2 separate regions of the Homo sapiens genome follow, and region 2 is reported to be linked to region 1. The links are microRNA targets in miRTarBase. Many come from high-throughput screens and were not tested one by one. Region 1 holds a microRNA gene; the other region holds the end of a gene's coding sequence. Distances are from middle to middle.

The links. The annotated mature microRNA hsa-miR-6779-5p reads CUGGGAGGGGCUGGGUUUGGC and lies in region 1 at 1,831-1,851, shown strand. An mRNA with a match to its seed (bases 2 to 7 or 8) in the 3' UTR can be bound and repressed. Matches are read on the target gene's strand: a 7mer-m8 pairs with bases 2 to 8, a 7mer-A1 pairs with bases 2 to 7 and ends in A, and an 8mer does both.
Region 2: the mRNA of TMEM11 is a reported target of hsa-miR-6779-5p. The part of its 3' UTR that is shown has no 7-base or 8-base seed match.

Annotation. Positions count from the first base shown.
Region 1 is chr17:38,913,154-38,916,236 of GRCh38, forward strand. MIR6779 (microRNA 6779) reads left to right here and starts at 1,826; the gene lies at 1,826-1,889. It overlaps LASP1 (LIM and SH3 protein 1), which reads left to right. Exons shown (of 7, transcript NM_006148.4): 5 at 1,172-1,322; 6 at 1,890-1,993.
Region 2 is chr17:21,195,502-21,198,584 of GRCh38, forward strand. TMEM11 (transmembrane protein 11) reads right to left here. Exons shown (of 2, transcript NM_003876.3): 2 at 2,453-3,083. The coding sequence ends at 2,823. Among named protein-coding and RNA genes, the nearest start is that of TMEM11, 17 kb to the right of the region's middle.

The DNA.
Region 1 (3,083 bases):
GGGTGGTGGTGGTCAAGGTGGGGGACTCTGTAGCCAGTAGAGCACTGTGGGGGCAAGAGACTGACTTGAAGGCTTGGAGCCTCACATGCCCGCCTAGTGGGGTGGTCCTGAGGGATATGACTTCTTTGGGCCTCTCTGCTCATTTTTGGAACCTGACCCGAGAAGGAGCCCATCCAAGACAATGTCCCGCCCTCAGGGAGGGTCTGGCAGTTTTTATCCCTAAAGGCTGGGATTCTCAGCGGAGCATCCTAGGCTGTAGTACCCACGACATCTTGCACACAAGAGGTGGAATCGCCTGTTGATGAAGAGCAAGGCTCTGGAATCTGTGATCTTGGGCCACTCACTTCACTTATCAATCCCTTCGCTTCCTTCTTGCCTGTTACATGGGGTCTGCAATCTACCCCTCAGGGGCGCTGACGAGCTCACATGAGCCTGTGACATAAAACACCTAGCACGGCCCTGGCGCAGTAAGAGCTCAGGAAACGGGCTGCTGCTGTGGTTACTGTGGACCCAGGCGGAAACAGAGCAGCCCCGCCCCTGCCGCAGGCATATAAAAGTGACCACTTGGCCGGTCACGGTGGCTCACGCCTGTAATCCCAGCACTTTGGGAGGCCGAGGCGGGTGGATCACCTGAGGTCAGGAGTTTGAGACCAGCCTGGTCAACATGATGAAACCCTGTCTCTATTAAAATACAAAAAATTAGCTGGGCGTAGTGGCAGGCGCCTGTAATCCCAGCCGCCCAGGAGGCTGAGGCAGGAGAATCACTTGAACCCTGGAGGTGGAGGTTGCGGTGAGCTGAGATCGTACCATTGCACTCCAGCCTGGGCGACAGAGCCAAACTCCGTCTCGAAAAAAAAAAAAAAAGAAAAGGGACCACTCACTTTGGTCTGATTCTTCAGTTCTCATGGTCCTTTTACATCGGTCATTTCATTGCATTCTCCAACAGTGTCTGAGGGAGACTGGTGTCTCATTTTGCAGAGGTGAAAACTGAGGCTTGGCAAGATTAGGTAGCTTGTCCAAGGACACACAGCTGGTGCTTCCAGAGCGAGACCTGGCTTTCTGTACCCAAAGCTCTTGGGTAGTCTCTCCCATCCTGGGATCTTGAGGGTCACGGGAAGGAACTGGGTGGTTTGCAGTGGGACCCTTCACCTAGTGCCTTCTGACCTTGCAGATAAAATACCATGAGGAGTTTGAGAAGAGCCGCATGGGCCCTAGCGGGGGCGAGGGCATGGAGCCAGAGCGTCGGGATTCACAGGACGGCAGCAGCTACCGGCGGCCCCTGGAGCAGCAGCAGCCTCACCACATCCCGACCAGTGCCCCGGGTGAGTGCAGGTCCTGTTGGTGCAGATGACCTGAGGCGAGGCCAGTGGGGTGGGGAGGAAGCCAGGAGAAGACAGACAGACAGATACACCTTCCGGAGCCTTGCTCTTAATCAACAGGCGATTATGCCTCTTGTGTGCAAGAGGGGACCAGAGGACCTGAGGCCGGGCCAGCTGGGGTGGGGAGGAAGTCGGCGAGAGACAGACACACACACACACACACACACACACACACACACACATGCACGCACGCATGCAGGCGAGGAAAAGACTGCTTCCCAAGACCCCAAGTTCCATTCTCATCCAGAATGAGGACGTGAGCACCAGGGTCAGGCCTGTACTGGGCCAAGAGGATTGAAAGGAGAGGCCCCCAGGTCATGGGGCTCAGAGCCCCTGCGTGGGATACAACACACAGGCAAATGTGCACACGTGGACATCAGCCTTTGAGCTGTGGGGCTTGAGCCAGGTTGGGGGCGGGGTGGAAGTGCATGGTATGGACTTCTCGGGAGCTCTGGGAGGGGCTGGGTTTGGCAGGACAGTTTCCAAGCCCTGTCTCCTCCCATCTTCCAGTTTACCAGCAGCCCCAGCAGCAGCCGGTGGCCCAGTCCTATGGTGGCTACAAGGAGCCTGCAGCCCCAGTCTCCATACAGCGCAGCGCCCCAGGTGGTGGCGGGGTGAGTAACCCTGGCCGGAGGGGAGAGGCCAGAGGCAGGGGGTCCTTCGGGAAGGCTTGGACACAGCTCATGGATTCTCCTGACCTTTGCACCCACCCTCTGTTGTGTGTGATGATAAGGATCTCAGCCTTGTGAGCAGAGAGGAAATTGGTTGGCGTAGTGGGCAGAGGCTGGCTGGGACTGGGGCCCTGCGTTCCAGCCCTGGTGTACCATGGGCAGGTTGCTCACCCTGCTTTGGGTGGGGTTTCCTTACCCCAGCTACCTGGGAACACACAAGGCAACTTTCTGCATGGGGCCTTCCAGCACTGGGCGCTGCTCTCCTCGCTTCATGAGGATGGCCCCCACATCCTTCAGCTCTCAGGCTGCCCCTGCCTCTGAGGGGCCTCCCCAGCCATGTCGTGTAAAGCGCATCACCCTGATGCTTTGCATCACTCGACTCCGCTGGCTGCCTTCAGAGCACTTTTTCCAACTAAAAAGAGCTCTTCGTGTTGGTCACCTTCTCTGTGTCCCCTGCTGGGCTGGGGACCCTGGCAGCGTCCGTCTGGTTCACCTACTCTGAGCCAGGCCTAGAGCAAGTGAATAAGCCCAGCAGGAATGGGGTGAGATCAGGCTTCCTGAGCCCTCAGAGCTGAAGTCCCGGCTCTGTAAGTCCTGCCACTCACTCCACCCATGGGTGCCGCTGAGCCACCCTTACCAAGCTCCTGGCAGGCTCAGCGCCTCCAGGCTGGGTGCCTGGGAATTCAAAGTAGCTCACGTAGGAGCAGAACAGATACTTAGAGAGATAAAATCGCCTGAGATAATGGCTGGCTGGAGTCTGATGCTCTGGGCACACAAACAAAGGGATGTTAGGACTGCCCAGGGCACTGTGGGCGCAAGAGTTAGTCTGAAGTATAAGGTTCCAGGCAGCCCAGCCAGTCCCTCCCTCCTCAATGGGTCTGTCCTGGATGTGTAGGGTCCATCTCTGAATATAAAGCCACCTCTCTGCCCTCTGGGGGCTTACATTCCAGTCAGGGGGACAAACAAGAAAACAATAAGAAAATAGGTGTATAACATAAGGTCAGCGGTGACACGCTGTGAAGAGAAAGACAGC
Region 2 (3,083 bases), 18 Mb from region 1:
AAGTGCAGTGGTAAGATCACAGCTCACTGCATTCTCAACCTCTCAGGCTTGAATGATCCTCCCTCCTCAGACTCCTGAGTAGCTGAGACCACATTTGCGTACCACCACATCTGGCTAATTTTTGTCTTTTTTTGTAGAGACAGGTCTTGTTATGTTGCCCAGACTGGTCTTCAACTCTTGGACTCAAGTGTTTAATGGTCCTCCTGCCTCAGCCTCCCAACGTGCTGGGATTACAGGCATGAGCTACTGCACTCAGCCTTCAAATGCTATTTCTTGAGAAGTACTGTCGCATATCACAGATGACCATAAGCAACTTGTCAGCAGCTCTGCCATGACTGATCATCTAGCAAGGACAATGGCAGGAACAGAGAAGTCAGCACTGACAGTGGGAAGGGAGGCACATTTCTTGCTGCCAGCCTCAGGCACACGAAACCCCTGCCTGCAGTCCACACCAGCACCTCATCCCCATCTCCCTGGCCAGGGGCCATGTAACTAAGATGGCATTTCAGAATCTAGGTTAATACATCCAATAAGAATCACTTGGTTCAGTGCAGCTTGGGAAATGGTAGAAGAGCTACCCATTTGCAGCTGGATTCTACCTCGGGGGAGGGCTCCTGCTCAGCTGACTTGAGGTTGCCTCGACTTGTCTGGCTTGTCCAGCTTGTGCCTTCTAGTCAATTCCCCCATGAAATCTAACTTGTTGGCAGAGCACTTCCAGGCCAGGTATGGGGCTCCCTTTCCAAACCTGGGCATTATTAAGAAAAAAAAAAACCAAAAACCTGCCCAGCAGGCTCAGATGCCAGCACTCAGACACCTGAGGGGTCATGGGCAGCTGCATTTCAACTCACACTGCTGTCGAGATGAGGCATGTTTTTACGGGATCAGTTGTGTGGCTAAGGCAGTTCCCTCTTTACCATTATTCCAGGTGCCCAGAGACTGCCACGTAAACAGTGGTGCACACCCAACACCGTCATGCCCCCAGCACTCAACTGAGTGATAAGTTATTTCTAAATCTCTTGGAATTAAATCAAAGTTTCTTAAACTTTTTGTGGGCCGTGGGTCCCTTTTAAAATCCTTAAGAGGTGTGAATCTCCCCTACAAAAAATGGCCCAATCACCCCTCGTGAATCCTTCCCATGCACCCTTTCATTACTCTGTGACATCAGGTCTTCCTGATGGGGACTTTAAAACTAGGTGAGAAACCACTTTGGCTGTCTCTTAAATATTGGCCTGGCCAGGCACGGCAGCTCACGCCTGTAATCCCAACACTTTGGGAGGCCGAACCGGGCAGATCACTTGAGGCCAGGAGTTAGAGACCAGCCTGGCCAGCAAGGCGAAATCCCATCTATACTAAAAATACAAAAAGTATCCAGGTATGGTAGCACACAGCTATAGTCCCAGCTACTCGGGGCTGAGGCAGGAGAATCACTTGTACTCGGGAGGTGGAGGTTGCAGTGAGCTGAGATCACATCACTGCACTCCGTCCTGGGTGACAGCAAGACTCTGTCTCAAAAACAAAACAAAACAAAACAAAAGACTGGCCTTCAGAAGGAGGTGCCATGTGGCTCTTCAGGGATGAATGGGGCTTTAGGAAGGCAGAAGTGAAGACAGGCACCCCAGCCTTTTTGTGGAAGAGAGAATTTCCCATTTACCCAAAGCCTTAGAGCAAGCTTGTCCAATCACCAATCAGCAGCCCATGGGCCTCATGCAGCCCACGATGGCTTTGAATGTGGCCCAACACAAATTTGTAAACTTTCTTGAAACATTATTTTTTTGTGATTTTTTTTTTTTTTTAGCTCATCAGCTGTCGTTAGTGTATTTTATGTGTGGTCCAAGACAATTCTTTTTCCAATGTGGCACAGGGAAGTCAAGATTGGCCACCCCTGCCTTAGAGGAAATGTGGCAGGTGACACAGTCTACCTTCTGGTGTGAGGGAGAAGCACCGGCTTGGCTCCTGTGGAACAGCGAGCACTGAGGCCAGGGGGTGCTTCCAAGATTGCTCCGAGGGCTCTTCTGTCAGCCTAGGGCAATGGGTTAATAAACTCATGGTCCACAGTAGGAAGAGTTTTGGTGCTTCAAAGAAAACACAGGTGTTCAGATCTCTGAAGAGCGATCCTGGAGCCCAGAGTTCCCCACGTGAACTCAAGTGGACACCCAAAGGCCTCCAAGCCTCGTCACCTTATCCTACCATGTTCCTGAACAGCATGGTGGCAGTGATGGCCTTCGGAATGATGAGGCCAAGGTGAGCCAGGAGACTGCTCCTGGGCGGGGTTTGGCCCCAGGACTACCTTGGATCTAGGCTTGTCGTCGCTGTAAGTGGTAACACTGGGCCGCAGCTAGGAGCAGGGCAGGGTGGCTACCATGGCACCTGCTCCTTCCATGTGCAAGCCGCCACCCAGAGCAGATGTGCAGCAGCAGCTGCGGGCAGTCATGGAAAGAGAGAACAGCGGGAGTTGAAATTCTCATAATTTTAATGATCAATAGCTTCTGGTGGGCTCTGGATGGTACAGTTAAACAATAGACTTAAAGACCTCCCCCAAAGCACGTCCACACCCCCTCGGCAGCGTCTGCCTCCATCAGCATTCCACTGCCCAGTCGGACTTCCACAGCCTCAGACCCCCCTCTTGGGTTATGGAAATCCACATCTTAGTGTAATGAGCTGAAAAACCCTGGGTACACCCGTGATCTGTTATTTTTTAAAAATAACAAATACTAAGCCAAACACCTGCCCAGGCTCTGCTGCCTCACAGAGTGTGGCGATCTGAATACTCTGTTGTCTCTTGTGGGCCGGGTGGTTTTGCTTCGCTCCCTGTTCTACTGAAATCATACGGCATAGAGTTCGTAAATCTTCTTTACACAGTACACCAGGGCGGCCAGTGCTATCGTGTTGTGCAGTCTCTTTCTGTGCAGGTCGTCCTTCCGGACCAGCACCACCGGGGTGGAGGAGGTGAGTGTGTGCAGAGGCAGGCGCGACAGTTTATAGGCGTCGTACTCCACTTGGTACTTGCAGCAAGGGTCAAACTGCCAGGAGATCCCATAGAGGGTGCAGCAGGCCAGGCTCAGCACACCAGCGGGCAGGGAAAT